Linked DNA regions of Homo sapiens: region 1 is linked to region 2. The links come from fine-mapping of genetic effects on gene expression. A gene starts in region 2. The other region holds a variant in brackets. All regions are shown on one strand. Distances are from middle to middle. Region 1 overlaps PARAL1 (PPARG activating RBM14 associated lncRNA 1). Region 2 holds the start of ANKEF1 (ankyrin repeat and EF-hand domain containing 1).

Region 1 (8,340 bases), 29 kb before region 2:
AAATTTGATTTTTTTAAAATATAGGCTTATTGGGAAATTAGATTATATATTTATTTGTAGTAAGGCAAATGGAAAAAAAATAAAGAATAGTGGCTCATGCCTGTAATTCCAGCACTTTGGGAGGCCAAGGCGGGCAGATCACAAGGTCGGGAGATCGAGACCAACCTGGCTAACACAGTGAAACCCTATCTCTACTAAAAATACAAAAAAAAAAAAAATTAGCCGGGTGTGGTGGTGGGCGCCTGTAGTCCCAGCTACTTGGGAAGCTGAGGCAGGAGAATCGCTTGAATCCAGGAGGCAGAGGTTGCCATGAGCCGAGATTGTGCCACTGCACTCCAGCCTGGGCGACAGAGTGAGACTCCGCCTCAAAATAAATAAATAAATAAATAAATAAATAAATAAATAAATAAATAAATAAATAAAAATGAAGAATAAAGGGCACAATCATGAGTAGAACACAAAGGCTGATGATCAAGGAGTCAAGCCAGAGTGATGATGGGTGGAGATTGGAAGAAACAGACCCAGAGACCTTGTGCTGGGCAACATCTGTTTCTACACTTGCCTGGCTACCTGACGTACTATCACTCATAGTTCTAAAGTATACCATGTTGGTATATTTATTAGTTTTTCAATATTTATTTAGATTTATTTTGGAAAAATATCCAATATATCCAGCTATTTAACAAAATTGAGGATTAAAACTATTTGATTTGGTGCTATTTTTGGACATGCATATTACACCAACAGAATAGCTGCTGATGCAAACCTGTTTGTTCCCTCTAGACAAGGAGATTAGAAACGGTAGGTAGATTCCTCCTTAAGAAAGAAGCAAATAACTTGAAATACAATTTGTTTTGTTTCTTGTATTTGAAAGTGCAGTTTACACAAGCCAAATAGACACCATATGGCCTTCAGTAATTTGACATTGAAGAGCAATGCATGATTTGTATTCTATTTCCAGCTACTGCACAGTGAATGTGCTGTGATACCATGTTTTTAAATTCCTCTCTGCCTTTGCCCTTGCTGTCTCTTAGAGGCAGGACATTTATTTATTCACTTATTCATTTCTTCTCTTTTTTATCCAGTGAAGTCTAAAAGAGATTGAAACTAAAAATAAATAAATAAAAAAGTTCAAACTAAAATTTCTCCTTTTTAGTGACCTCACTGAAGCTGTGTCATTATCTGGGGTAAATACCCAAGGTTTGTCTCTCCGCCAAGAAGATTAAGGACATGGACACACAGGGCAAGGGAGTTTAGGAGTGGAGGTTTACTAGCTAAAAGAAAGAGAAAGGAGAATAGCTCTCTCTCTCGTGAGAGAGGGGCTCCCGAAAGGGAAAAACCAGCCTGTGGCATACTGCACCAGATTTTATAGGCAGGCTTCAGGAGGCAGTGTCTGATTTACTAGGGCCCACAGATTGGTTGGACCAGATGTGATGTTTATATAGCGCACAGGGAAGGCTGGCCACCCCACCCTAATCTTATTATGCAAATGGGTTTTTCACTTGGCCAGGGCCAACTTGTCTGCTCCTTACTGTACACGTAGCTGGCAAAAGAAGGGAACATGGAGTCGCCATTTTGCACATGCCTAGTCCCAGATAGCCTTTTCCTCTTGGCACAACTGCTGGCATTCACCTGTGCAAGCTTCCAGCTTTCTTGTCTATGTCTGCAGCTCTATTTTACAGGCTGCTCTTTGTTAGAAAAGAAAATGATTTGGGGGCTGCTTTTCATTAAAAGGAAAACTTTACCAAGGACTCTCGTACCCTCACTATCTGCCTAAATAATTTTTTCTTAACTCCTATGTCATCACCACCTCTGTGAGTTAATATTGTTTTGTTCATACCCCTAAGTATAGCACTATTGTGTATTGTGATGGTATATATAGCCCTGACTCCCCCACTAAACCCCAAGCTTCACAAGGTCAGGGCCATGTTTCATTGTTTTAGAAATCTGTAACACCTAGCATGTCATAGATTATTTTTAAATGTTAAGAGAATTGCATTAAAAATTAAATACTTAAATATTTTTAGATCAAAGCATCAAGGTTAATATCTTTGTAAAGGGAATAATGTTCTATTATGAGTGGTAATAAGATTTTCCCATTAAGTTTGATTGAAGAACCCCAGTTTCACAATGCAGAGTACTAACCACTATACGATCACAGCTGAAGGAAGCCAGTTTCAAATACCACAGGTCATCCATCATTTTATCTAGCACATGGATATATATGACCACATTCGGGTTCCCAATAAGTAATGAGAGAAACAGAAGCATTTAATGTTGCCAAAAAAAAGAATCATAACATGGCCATGCTGATCTGTTTGTCTGTCATGATAACTAATGCAGCTTTTTTTGATAACCAATAGAAATAATGAATTCCCTACAAGTACATAGTACTTACAATAATATTTTAATAACCTACTTCAACATGAATTTTCAGTCCTCTTGGAAGGCTAACAAAATGATCCCCTCCTCCCCAAAATTGCATCATGTATTTGTTCATTTAACTTTTCAATCAATATTCATTTATCAGGTGCATGTCCATTTAGTAGACACTATGCTAGAGACACTTATACAGCATAGGCGAGTGTTTTAAAAAGTAAAAATACTTTATGCATTCATCTCTTCCTCACTGCACTGCCTTGACCCCACACAAGAAAGTGTGTAGCAGTTTCTCTTGGGTTTTGCTTACAGCTTCTCCAACAGATAAGAATATTTTATTTCATTTAATTTCATTTTAAATTTATTACTTCATGAAAGTGAGATAAAATTTGCCTAATTATCATAAGAAATATGGAAATGAATACGGGACATTTTCTAAGCACATGCATAGCACAGTGAACTCACTGCTTCCACTCTGTGTTTCTCAGTGGTGGAGGAATTAGTGAGTCCATCAGTGCCTGCCATGGGGAGGGTGAGGGGCAGGGTTCAGGCCTCACATTTATAGCAGGCCTCATCCTGTTCCAGATGTAATCGCCACATACTTTCACATGCAGCCACAGTGGGAAGTTGCAGGGTTGAAAGATAATACCACTTGAATCCTTGAAAATAAACACTAAAAATACATCCAAATGTTTAACCCAGTTTGGTCATTTTTTCATTCTGTTTTCTTCATTTTGGTTACTTCTTAATTTTGTTTAAGGCTCTCACTAAATTATTTGAATCATGATCCTGGCTCAGTATTCTTATTTTCTCATTTTTCTCAGTGCCTTATTTCCTAAAACCTTAAAAGTCAAAGATCCCTGGAGGGACAGGTGGGGGTGAGGGGAGAAAGACAATATATAGAGCTCTCAAATATGTCTTTCAAAAGAGTGCCATAAAAAGCTTTTAAGATGGTATTTATTTACTTACAATTTATGCCCCTCAAATCAAAGAAAACACAGTATGGTGTCTCTTCCCTCAATGTTATTGCCCCCCTCCCTTCCAAATGGCATTAATTTAAAATGAAAAAATAGGGTAGAATTCCGTGTTCTTCCTTCTTCCCAACTTGGCACCATAATACGCACGCTCCTCCTCCCCACCAAATTCATGCCTTTTATCAATCTCATTGGCATAATTACAAGGAGAAAATTTCATTTTAATTGTATTCATTTTATTTTAGAAAGGAGACTGAAACTCTGGAGGATTTATAAAAAATATTTACAAAGCTATGAAGTATGTGCTTAAGTAAACTAATTTCACCGGTTCTCTTTATACTTTTTAAAATTTGAAAGTAGGGAAAATTTAAAAATAAAAACATGCTATATTCTCACATTAAAAAAAAATCCTATGAAAGGGAGAACTCAAAAATTTGTTCTCTAATCCTTTGCCCTTGAGGTCACCGCTGTTCAGAGCTTGATATTTGTTCTTTCCAAGTTTTTCTTAGACTTATTGTGAAATATGTAAGTGCTTATCTTGTAAAAATAGTATTGAGCACAGGGCTTATCCTTCCTTGTCTGGTACCTGGGGAGATTTGGGCAGGTGGAGATACTGGTGTATGAGGAGGACCTGATAAGGAAGTGGTTGGGCTCTGAATTGGTTGGTTTGCATTTGAAAGTTTTGCTAGCAGGAGAGTTGTTGACTTA[C/A]TATTTCTAGGAATTAGTGAACCTTGTGAGGCAGGAGCAAGGCCCTGGATGTCAAGCCTTTCAGAATACAGAAAATCAAAAGACACAAGGCTAATATAACTTCATACTGCTTTTTTAATTTAAAGAAACCCAGAGAATTTGCTTAAGTGTTTCAAGCTAACAAACATTTTATTCGTGTGGCATAAATAATACATGAACAGACTTTTATGAGTAATATAACATCTGCAGCTCTTAGAAAATAAAACATAGTTAATTAGGGATGGCAGGAATTATGTAATCATTACTTTTATGTTTTGTTCTTTCTAGGTCATTCAAACTGTCATCTACACATGAATAACAATGAAATTCTCATAAAGAAGCAGAAATACCCAGGAGGCATGAAGAGTCATCATGCTTCAAAAGTACATGTATTAGGACTTCACGACCTCAGGAAAAGTAGACTCCGTAACTCTTAAAAGCTCAATCTTGGAGAGGAGAAACATGCTGTTTGATGACATAGCACAGAAACTTGTTGAAATATCCTTGGAGCTTGAGATGTCGAGAGCGAGCCATCAAAATGTTCTCAAGAATTAAATTGAAAAATGTTGCTTCAAAATGTCTTAGCCAACCAAATACAAACATTTTTGTCATTGTGACAAAAAAAAAGCTCACCAATTGTCTTTGCTAGTCTCAGCACAGCCCAAGAGGAGCATCCTTCATGAGCCAACTGAAAAACAGTGTGTAGTCTATGCTTCTGACCAGATGGGCTTCTCTTGTCACCATAACATTATGTATTAGGACTTCATGTATTATGTATTATGTCAACACTTTATTCATTATGCTGATCATACTCTGTATTTCACTTGCTCTGGTTATTTGTAAAGCTTTTCCTATTTCATCATTAAATTATCCTTGTATTTTAGCAACTGCATTTTAGTCACTCTATATTCTTTATAGTGCCTGCCCAAATGACATATTAATAAGCATTTTTTCTGAATCAATAACCAACCCCCAAAAAATCTGCAGCCATGGTTGTAAATACCGTACATTCCAAAGAAAAGTGGAAATGAATGAAGGACCAATTTTGAGGAAGAATTAGGGTTCTCAAAAATTCAACAATTACAATCAGTAAGTTTTTTAAAATTTAACAAATTCAACAAGTATGTCAACAAGTATTCAACAAGTTAGAGTTATAAACATTTGTTCAAAATTTTACACGTGGTTAATACCTTCAGAGCAGTTAGCAGCAAGATTCTCATTTTTAAATCTTTACCCCTTTGTTCATTTTAAGGCAAGATGGAGACCATGTTGATGTCAGAGCAATTGGTCCAGGGTTGTGTGAGGAGCCACTAGGAAGGGAGAAACAGGGAAATGTGGACCCAAACAGCATAGTGTTCCCCAGAAACTTGGGTTGGACACAAGAGTGTACATGCAGGAAAAAGTAAAATCAAGAAGATGTGTTAATCTAAACAATGCTGTGAGCAAATGAGACACAGGTCTCCAGGGGACACTCTGAGAAACTACACAGAATACACTTCAAAATTGTCCACCAGAAAGACAAATGAGAGAAGGGATGATCCATTGACTGTCTTCTACCATTGGTCATGTTGGCCGAAAGGCTGTTCACGACCGTGGACTTCAAAGATTGCACCTGCTTCAGAATGGCTGAGTAGTTTGCAGAAGGCATCTTAACAGATGGTAACAGAGAAGCAAGAGATAAGTGCTGCAGCTGATGCAAGGTGCTGGCAGTGACACTATCACAAAGCTGGTTGCTGTAAAAATGTGGCCAAGAGGATGTGAGCTACAACGCAAGAGTGGTTCGACATCATTTCTCAGAAGCACATGAGTCTGATGCAAATCTATTGTTCTTGAAATAATGAGCACAGGACCATATTTGTCCCTTCTGGACAATAGTCAGAGAAAGGAGCACCCACAGAGAGAAAAGATCTGGTAATACTAGTTAGGGAGTGGAAGAAGCCAGGTGATATAGTTTGGCTGTGTCCCCACACAAAATCTCATTGTGAATTGTAATCTGAATTGTAATTCCCATGTGTTAGAGCTGCGACCTGGTGGGAGGTAATTTAATCATGGGGGTCGTTACCCTCATGCTGTTCTTATGATAGTGAGTTCTCACGGGATCTGATGGTTTTATAACAGGCTTTTCCCCCTTTTGCGTGGCACTTCTCCTTGCTACTGCCATGTGAACAAGGGCGTGTTTGCTTCCCCTTCTGTCATGATTGTAAGTTTCCTGAGGCCTACCCAGCCATGTTGAACTGTGAGTCAACTAAACCTCTTTACTTTATAAATTACTCAGTCTCGGGTATGTCCTCATAGCAGAGTGAGAACAGACTAATATACCAGGGCACAGAAGAAGCCTAAGACTAAACTGCACCTCTCTGTGCTTTAAACACAGACCAGCACCTGGATGAGTGTTTTTCTTTTTCTTCTGTGCATATTTTTTGTATTTGGCTGCTTTTTAACTTGCCAGCTCTGACAGAACAATGCCATCTCTGAGACACTTTTTATCTACACATAAATTAAGTTACTTTATTGCTTTAGTTTCTCTGAGTTTTGTGCATTTTAGGGAGAGCTCTCAGTGTTTCCTGCTTACAGTCTTAGTTTAGGCTCCTCCAAAAGCCAACCCTGAGAAAATGATGTAGATACATGTATTTTATTTTATTTTTTAAGAGACAGGAGTCTTGCTATGTTGCCCAGGCTGGACTAGAACTCCTGGGTTCAAGTGATCTTCTCACCTCAACCTCCTGTGTAGTTGGGACTACAGATGCATGTCACCATGCCCCAGGTAGTTTGACAGGTGATCCCAGGAAGTGCAACAAGGGAGTGAGGAGTGAAGTAGAAAAGGGAAGACAGCCAATGAAAGGTGTGTGCACAAGGGAGCAGGGAGCAGGTAACCGCAATCTCAAGCTTTCTGAGAGTGTGGCCCAAAGGGTGATAGGGAATCTGGGCTGTTTATGCACCAGTTCCAGTTTCTCACTGGTTGAAAATTGCTGCTGGGAAATTAAACTCATTACACTTCTAGGCAGAGCAAACTCCTGTACTGCCAAGAAAGCCCCACAGGCAGAGAAGCAAGCAGAGAGGCGTGGATAGTTGAGGTAGAAAGACATGGGTGTGTCGCGCAGCTGCAGTGAATCCAGACATTTGGCTGACGGACATAGATTGGGGCATCAGTAGCTTCTACAATACATTCTGAGATTATTTTGCAAAGGACAAAAATCCTTGAGCATGGAGAAAAACAATAGCAACAGTCTTCTTCTAGCATCTAGAAGGAAAGATGGTAAGTTAATTAGTAAAGGGTTAGAGGCAGTTAAAATGAACTCTGAAACTGAGACTATTTGTTAAACTTTGCAGACCAAAACTTTAAACTGGAATTGGATCACTTTAATGAAAATCCCCTTTGCTATTGCTGCAGAACAAATGAGGAAAGAAAAGAAACCAACATGTTTATTGCTTTCACCTATAAACCAAGAACCTCACTGAACTATGTTAAGTAACAACTGTTTGGCTCTGTTTCTGTGAAGACTACATGGGGACTGATGGATATTTTTAAATTTTCTCTTACTAGTCATTGCTCTGGTTCATTACTAAGATGGAGCCACTCAAATAATGAGTGCTTTCTGATAGAAAAGCTGGATGACAAGATATGAAAATAGGTCTTAAACACAGTGGATTTCACCAGGGCTAGAAGCATGGGCAGAGCCGAAAGAGTCCAGAAAGGAAATACTCTCAGTGGTATCATAGATTTTAAAAATTCACCCCAATTCTTCATTTCCTCTTAATTAAGTTATAAATTCATACTACTGCCTAGTGGACTGAGTGAACTGCCCCACCCCTTGATTCTAGATTTGGCCATGTAACTTGCTTTGGAAAAGAAGTTGTTAGCAGACCTGGCATAACCTGTATGCTGGCTTATCTTCTTGGCAATTGTGATCATCCATGAGACGAACATGTCCCATGGGCTGCTATGTCTTCTCCTTCAGCCTAGGCCCTGGAAGGAAACGTGGAGCAAACTTGAACCCATCATAGCCAAGAGCTTCAGTCTTGGAACATAAATACGGAAATAGAGCTGCCCAATCAAGCATATTCTAAATGAGTCAATAGCAGTCAACTCAAGAATCCAAGCATGACAGCAGATGCTTACTTCTGTGACCACTAAATTTGTGGGTGAATCTATGAGGTAACATTATAGCGGCAGTAGTTGACTGATATAAGTGGTAGATTATTTTTTTTCTTGCCTGTAGTTAGGGTGATAATTATAACAGGGGAATAAAGACTTTTGTTA
Region 2 (8,340 bases):
TCTCAATCAAACAGCAAATGCTTACCCAACTTCTATTCAAAATATTTGCGCCAGTAGTTCTGATATGACCCAAGCAGAGTTCACACATTATTAATCTACTCCTTTCAGTCTTCTAGATGTGTTTCCTCCAAAATCTACCAGATTCTCAAATAATTTCAGGAACTTTCTCCAGAACAGAAACAAGGTTGTTACTGATACCAACTTTGTCTCCAAACATGGGGAAGATTATCATTGGAAAGATCTATTGATGACCTATAATACATAGTTGGAACTGTTTATCCACAGAAGTATTCCCCAAGAATCAACCACAGAGCCAAGATGGAGCTTATGTCATTGTTATGCATACTTCTTTTACGGCTTGTGAGGGCAGTTCATACTATTCTGATTTTACAACTGAGACCCAAGGAACCTGAGTGACTTCTAGGCTCCATTATGTCAAAAAAAACTCAAATGTGAGGCTTTGCCTACACTGAGAAACAGTAGTTCAAGAAACGGTGCCCTGGTTCTGTTAAAATAATCTGAGAGTTATGTGGTAAGTAGTTGAGAGTGAATAGGGTAGCTTTGAGAGGTGACAGCGTGCTGGCAGTCCTCACAGCCCTCGCTGGCTCCAGGCGCCTCCTCTGCCTGGGCTCCCACTTTGGCGGCACTTGAGGAGCCCTTCAGCCCACCACTGCACTGTGGGAGCCCCTTTCTGGGCTGGCCAAGGCCGGAGCCGGCTCCCTCAGCTTGCAGGGAGGTGTGGAGGGAGAGGCGCGAGCGGCAACCGGGGCTGCGCACGGCGTTTGCGGGCCAGCTGGAGTTCTGGGTGGGCGTGGGCTTGGCGGGCCCCGCACTCGGAGCAGCCGGCCAGCCCTTCCAGCCCCAGGCAATGAGAGGCTTAGCACCCGGGCCAGCAGCTGCGGAGGGTGTACTCCGTCCCCCAGCAGTGCCAGCTCACAGGCGCTGCGCTCAATTTCTCACCGGGCCTTAGCTGCCTTCGCGCGGGGGGTGCTCGGGACCTGCAGCCCGCCATGCCTGAGCTCCCACCCCCTCCATGGGCTCCCGTGCGCCCGAGCCTCCCCGATGAGCACCACCCCCTGCTCCACGGCGCCCAGTCCCATCGACCACCCAAGAGCTGAGGAGTGCGGGCGCACGGCGCGGGACTGGCAGGCAGCTCCACCTGCAGCTCTCGTGCGGGATTCACTGGGGGAAGCCAGCTGGGCTCCTGAGTCTGGTGGGGACGTGGAGAACCTTTATGTCTAGCTCAGGGATTGTAAATACACCAATCGGCACTCCGTATCTAGCTCAAGGTTTGTAAACACACCAATCAGCACCCTGTGTCTAGCTTAGTGTTTGTGAACGCACCAAGCCACACTCTGTATCTAGCTACTCTGGTGGGGCTTTGGAGAACCTTTGTGTCCACACTCTGTAGCCAGCTAATCTGGTGGGGACATGGAGAACCTTTGGGTGTAGCTCAGGGATTGTAAACGCACCAATCAGCGCCCTGTCAAAACAGAGGACTCGGCTCTACCAATCAGCAGGATGTGGGTGGGGCCAGATAAGAGCATAAAAGCAGGCTGCCTGAGCCAGCAGTGGCAACCCGCTTGGGTTCCCTTCCACACTGTGGAAGGTTTGTTCTTTCACTGTTTGCAATAAATCTTGCTGCTGCTCACTCTTGGGGTCCACACTGCTTTTATGAGCTGTAACACTCACTGCGAAGGTCTGCAGCTTCACTCCTGAAGCCAGCGAGACCACGAGCCCACCAGGAGGAACCAACAACTCCAGAAGCGCCGCCTTAAGAGCTGTAACACTCACCGTGAAGGTCTGCAGCTTCACTCCTGAGCCAGCGAGACCACGAACCCACCAGAAGGAAGAAACTCCGAACACATCCGAACATCAGAAGGAACAAACTCCAGATGCGCCACATTAAGAGCTGTAACACTCACCGCGAGGGTCCCTGGCTTCATTCTTGAAGTCAGTGAGACCAAGAACCCACCAATTTTGGACACAGTTTGACAATAAATTTACACTCAAATATCTCTAAGGAATCAAACTTACAGATTAATAATTAGTAATCAGGTCACGTAAAGTAAATTATAAAAGAGCATTGATACCAAGATTGGCAGAAAGTTTTTTGTGTGACAAAACCAAGTTTTGGCTAAGATACACACTGCTGATGGGAGTCTAAATTGCTGTATATGTCGGGAAAACAAGTTGTCTTTATCTTGATGTTATAAATAACCTATGACCCAGAAATTTAACTCCTAGACATATACTCTAGTGAAACTCTTGAACGTGTGCGTCCAAAGACATTTATAAACATGATCTTAGTAGTATTGCTTTTAGTAGCAAATTCTGGAAACATCCCAAATGTCTATCAATAGTGGAATTGATTTGAAAGGGGTGTGGAATGGTAATATAATGGAATAGCCTACAGCTGTTTAGATAAAGGAACTCCAATTAAACATACCAACAAAGATACATTTCAAAAACAAGACGTTGAAAGGAAAAAAGTCATCAAAACAATACACAACATTCTACCACATTTTTATAAATTCTCAAAATATGCAATATTAAACATGCATTATTTAGGGAGGCATTCAATGTAGCAATGCATTTTTAAGAGGCTGGGATGATAAATGTAAAATTCAGAACAGGTATTATCTCTGGGAACAGGAAGAGGAGGATGCAGTGTTGGGAAGAAATACATATAAGTACAGCAGTAGAGGCAGACTTTTTTTTCCTTTTCCTTTTTCCTTTATTTTTCCTAGCTTTCTTTTTCTTTAGCTATGGTATTTCTTTAGCTATGGTATGGTATGGTATGTACTTTCCATATATCATACAGTATATTTTGGTGTGCATGAAATAGTCCTTAATAACATTTTTATTATTTTTTATTTGACGTTTAAGTTCAGGGGTACATGTGCAGATTTGTTATATAGGTAAACTTGTGTCATGTGGTTTTGTTGCACAAATTATTTTCTCACCCAGGTATTAAGATTAGTACCCATTAGTTATTTCTCTTGATCCTCTCCCTCCTCCCACTCTCCACCTTCTACCCTCCAATAGGCCCCAGTGTGTGCTGTTCCCCTCTATGTGTCCATGTGTTCTCATCACTTAGCTCTCACTCATAAGTGAGAACATGCAGTATTGGGTTTTCTGTTTCTGCGTTAGCTTGCCAAGGATAATTGCCTCCAGCTCCATATTCCTGCAAAAGACATAATTTTGTTCCTTTATATGGTTGCATAGTATTCCATGGTGTATATGTACCGCATTATCTTTAGCCAGTCTATCATTGATGAGCACTTAGGTTGATTCCATGTCTTCGCTCTTAACATTTTTAAACAGTCTCTGAGTAGAATAGGGTAGGCTGGTGTAAGGAATTACTGTTTTTAATTGGAAGCAATTACATACTGCATTAAAAAGCATATATATATAGACACACATATATATGTTTTACATTCACATAATCAAACCAAAGCTTTCAGAATTTTCCGCCAAAAAGCATGTGTGGAGGGAGAGAGAGGGGTGTTATGGTGCATTTGTAGGCCCTGAAATAAAGTGATCTCCATATTTGCTTCCATTTGTGTATAAATATTTTTTAAGCATATATGCATCCTAGAGTATGGAAAGAAAATTTCTGGGAAGATTTGCAAGAATCTGTGGCAGTTGAGAGTAGGTTCACTTTCGCTTTATTGTGTAATTTATTGTATTTTTCATTTAATTGTACTTTGTAAACTAAATATTTATTGTATATTTTACTTCATTTTTTAATTGCCATATGCAGCTTTAATTTTATAACTAAATTACGTTCTGACCCAGGGCAGGAGGTGGGAGAAGAGAATGAGAGAAGGGCGGAATCCTCAAGACAGCAGCATTCTGCGCTCCGCCCTGGAACACCCAGCGCAGCTACCCCATCCCGCCCAGGCCGGCCACCTGGCGTCGAAGCCAGGCGCGAGGGGCGGAGGCGGAGGCGGGGGCGGGGGCGGAGGCGGAGGCGGAGGCGGAGGCGGAGGCGGAGGCGGAGGCGGAGGCGGAGGCGAGCACCGCCCCACCGCGCACGCTGCGGTTGCCCCGGCAGCCGCGCCCTGCGTGGCGGAAGCTCACAATCAGCCCGGTCCCTCCGGCTTCCACCCCGCCCCCTGCGCTCACCTGCCCGCGCGCTCGCCTTCCGGGGACCCGGGGCCCATGGACACATACACCCAGCCCTGCTGTCCCGCGCGCCAGCTCACCAGCCCTACCCAAGGGACATCATTCACGCCTGGGCGCCTCCGCCGGGCTCCGGGAGCCCAAGGTCGCGGCTGGGCCAGCGCTGAGCGTCAGAGGACGAGAGCAGGGGCCTCCCCGGTCGCCCCAGCAGGCCCAGGCACATAGGTGCCCAGAGATCCCTGGCTTCTGATCGCCCGGAAGACTAAGAGGTGAGCATGACACATGGCTTTTCCTTTGACGTTACATCTCTACCCCCTCCACTCCTCTCTTCTCCAGATTTTTCTGGAGACTAAAAAGTGGAAAGCACAGTAGAGAACCCCCAACATGTAAACTATCGCTTACACTTGTGGGTGAGCTGAAACCCGCAAAAGTTTGGTGTATTCATAAGGAGCCTATATTGAAGGACTTTGCTAAATGTTTTACAAGGATCATATCTCATTTCCTTTTCACACAGTCCCATGAAGTGGGCACCATTGCTATTGCCAGTTCACAGATGCAGAAACTGAGGTAAAAACTAGGTAGGTAGCATATCCATATTTATATCCAACTAGTTTGTGTAAATAATGATACAGGGAAGGGAGGATCACAACGGATTTCCCCACCTCAAACCCTACATTCCACTGTACCAAGCTTGTCTTCCTCCATTCCTCTTTCTAATGATCCTTCCTTGTCGCACAGCCCCCCTTTGAGAGTTAAATGACCTGAACACACACAGATTCCCACAGATTTTCATGTAATTTCCGAGTATTCAGACCCCGAACATGGACCTCAAGTCAAGACATTCTGCTCTATTCCACTACCTTGGTAGATGGTTAGATGTGACTAAGGTGGCCCAGGGTCATGCTGGGGAAAAGTACAGGTGTGCTTGTATGTGGAGGATCCTATATGCTGCTCAATTTACAAGGAACCCAGGACCCAAGGGCTACACTTGTGTGATTTCCTGCAGTGGGGTGAGCTCTTGGTCAGTCTTAGCAGTTGATTGTGAAGGACACTATACAGGGTGCTGCCCTCTCCCCAGCACTTCAGGGCTTTAGCTGGGAGGGAGGCAGTCCACAGGAAACCGACCCATGGACCTACTGAATTCATCACTGTAGCTGCTAATTAATTCTCCGTTAGAGATGGGTGCTAACAGAGGCAACATTGAAGTCCCTGATTGGGAAATCCTTATTTTCACAAATCAAGTGGCATTGATTCAGTCTAATCATTACCTATGTAGGAGCATCTTGCCCTATTCCATAGATGACACATATACATATGCAGTATGATGACACCGCACCTAATCGGAATATGGCCGATAATAATAAAACAAGCCATAAATAGCAGCTAAGGTGAGTGTCACCAAGCCGTGCAGCAAAGTCCAAGTGGATGACTCTGAGGCAGCCTCAGTTGGTTCCCTAGTCCACCGCATGTTATAAACAGATTAAAAGGCAAAGGAGGCCTGGCCCGGTGGCTCACGCCTGTAGTCCCAACACTTTGGGAGGCTGAGGCGGGTGGATCACCTGAGGTCAAGAGTTCAAGATCAGCCTGGCCAACATGGTGAAACCCTGTCTTTACTAAAAATACAAAAATTAGCCAGGTGTGGTGGTGGGCACCTGTAATCCCAGCTACTCGGGAGGCTGAGGCAGGAGAATCGCTTGAACCCAGGAGGTGGAGGTTGCAGTGAGCCGAGATTGTGCCACTACACTCCAGCCTGGGTGACAGAGTGAGAGTTGGGCTGAGGGTCGAGGGTCATGGGATAGGGCGAGACACCAGGGGAGTGTGTGAGGACAGAAAAGAGTCTTGAGGACCTAGCCCTGGGCACCCAACATAGGCTTCTTGAAATGGGGAGTCAGCAAAGGAGCCTGAGCAGGAGGGGGCATTGGTGTTGGATGGAAGCAGGCGATGGAGATGTTGTGGTGCCTAGAGAGACACATTTAAAGGAGAGAGAGCTCACTGCCGTAGAGAATGTAGGTGAGGGAGCAGGCTTGCGATGGAGAAAAATGGTGCATAGTTTCAACTTTTGTAGTAAGATGGAATCTTTTCATTGCAAATGTTGGAAACTTAGCTAACTAGCTTATACCAAAATAAGGTGACGGGGGAGAAGATGTATTTACCCACAAAGTGGTAGATGGCTTCTGGCACCATGGAATCCATGTTGCAACTAATGCCATCAATCTCAGTCTCTCTCCATCCTCCAAGCATGGACTCTCTCTGTGGCACCCAAGAGAGCTACCTGCGCCCCAGCCCCACACCATACTGCTTAACAACTTCAGCAGAATAGTCTTCCCTCATAGTTCTGGATGATGGGCTGCTGATTGGTTGATGTCTTTTATGCACATATGCTTGAGCTTCAGTGTACCTGGAAAGGGATGGTTCCCTCAAATGGGCCAAGCCTAGGCCACAGACGCTTTCCTCTGGCAGGGGACAGAAGGGACAGCCCCATCCAAACGACCCGGATAGGATTCCCTATGTGATAATGGAGTTCTTTTCTCATAAGAAATGAAGAAACAACTGGTCATACCTAGCATGGCCTGCTACTCAATCCAAAAGATTTTCCGTACAAGGAGGTAAAATTACATACTAGAATGCCCATCACAATTTAACAGGGAGATTGTTTATGAAGATTTGCAGTTTCCTTGCAGCCATTTAACTACATCTTTTCCACTTAAGATGACATAGGAATCACTCATCACATCTCTGATATGTTACAGAGCCCAGTAGATTTGTTTATAATGAACACCTCAAAATTATATGTTTTTATAACACCTTAAAACTATTAAAACCTGCATGATCTCTCTATTTTGCTGGTGTGAAACCATGTAGATAGATGGTGGGAACTCAAACCCTTACCATGGCAATTTAGTTAACCTCAGCTTCTTCATGGTAAAATGGTAAAGTGTGATGAGGAGGGAAGGTTAAATGGATAATAAGAAAACCACCTGGCAAACTATTTTTAATTATGATGGAAGATTTGTTTGAACTGTTTTAACTTTATGCCCACTCAATATTTTTGATATTTATGTATAAATCCTACTTTCTGAACATTTCTTAAAAAACAATCTCTGTTCTTAAGGAAGTTCCAAAATATTGTTATTTAATCAAAATGAAGATGATAAAATTAACTTTGAGTTATTTTTCTTTTTTGTTGCTTCAGCTTTAGTTTTGGTCCAGAAAGCATTTTCAAGGAGCTGGTCAAGCATGGCTTTAGCAGATAAGAGACTTGAGAACTTACAGATCTACAAAGTTCTTCAATGTGTGCGGAACAAAGACAAGAAGCAGATAGAGAAGCTGACCAAGCTTGGATACCCTGAACTAATCAATTATACAGAACCCATTAATGGACTTAGTGCTTTGCACTTAGCCTCAGTTTCCAATGATATTGATATGGTCAGCTTTCTCCTTGACCTTGGTGCTCACCCTGATGTGCAAGACCGAATGGGCTGTACTCCCACAATGAGGGCTGCAGAACTGGGCCATGAATTGTCAATGGAAATATTAGCAAAGGCAAAGGCTGATATGACTATAGTTGATAATGAAGGAAAAGGTAAAAATCCCGACATCCTCTCCAGCAGATTGCAATTCATTTTGTAGCCAGAAAGCAATAACATGGACTCTTTTTGTTTTCCAACTTTAGAAGTGAATTACTTATGGTTTTAAGGGAAAGGCTAAATTCTCACTCCTATACCTAAACCTACTGTCTCCTCATACTTTGAAAATGAGATAGCTATATCTTAGGGAAATCATTTATGAGAGCTTGCTCATATACTTAGATTAATTTGTGTTTGGTGGTTTCTTTTAAATGAGGAGAATTTTGAACATTATACACACTGATTATTCATTATAAATTATAAACTCTTCTTTAAAACAAAGATGAAGTAGAGCATTTCTTATTCTTTTTTACATTTTAGAATTTCAGGCAGTACTACACCTAGGACTCCAAAAGGATTTTGACCCCCTCAATAGCAGTCTGATGTAGGAAGGACTTGCACTTGGAAACTTGAAAGGACTAAAGTCAATTCTGGCATAAACTCCAACTTTCTAGGATCATTTAAAAATGTATTTGGAAATACAACTTCAAACTTTAGACATGACCTTTCAACAATGATTCAGATCAAACAACTGCACTTCCACACCGTTAATCCCATCATCTCAAGACCATGGTCTGAGGACTTC

The links.
Region 1: its variant is fine-mapped to the expression of ANKEF1 in thyroid (GTEx, PIP above 0.99).

The regions. Positions count from the first base shown.
Region 1 is chr20:10,002,146-10,010,485 of GRCh38, forward strand. It overlaps PARAL1 (PPARG activating RBM14 associated lncRNA 1), which reads left to right. Exons shown (of 2, transcript NR_109861.1): 2 at 4,368-4,971. Among named protein-coding and RNA genes, the nearest start is that of PARAL1, 20 kb to the left of the region's middle. The variant C/A (reference allele first, on the strand shown) is at 4,062.
Region 2 is chr20:10,030,937-10,039,276 of GRCh38, forward strand. It overlaps ANKEF1 (ankyrin repeat and EF-hand domain containing 1), which reads left to right and starts at 4,051. Exons shown (of 11, transcript NM_022096.6): 1 at 4,051-4,397; 2 at 4,643-4,706; 3 at 7,322-7,711. The coding sequence starts at 7,366. All of the region lies in intron 3 of SNAP25-AS1 (SNAP25 antisense RNA 1), which reads right to left. RefSeq lists a silencer at 3,842-4,391.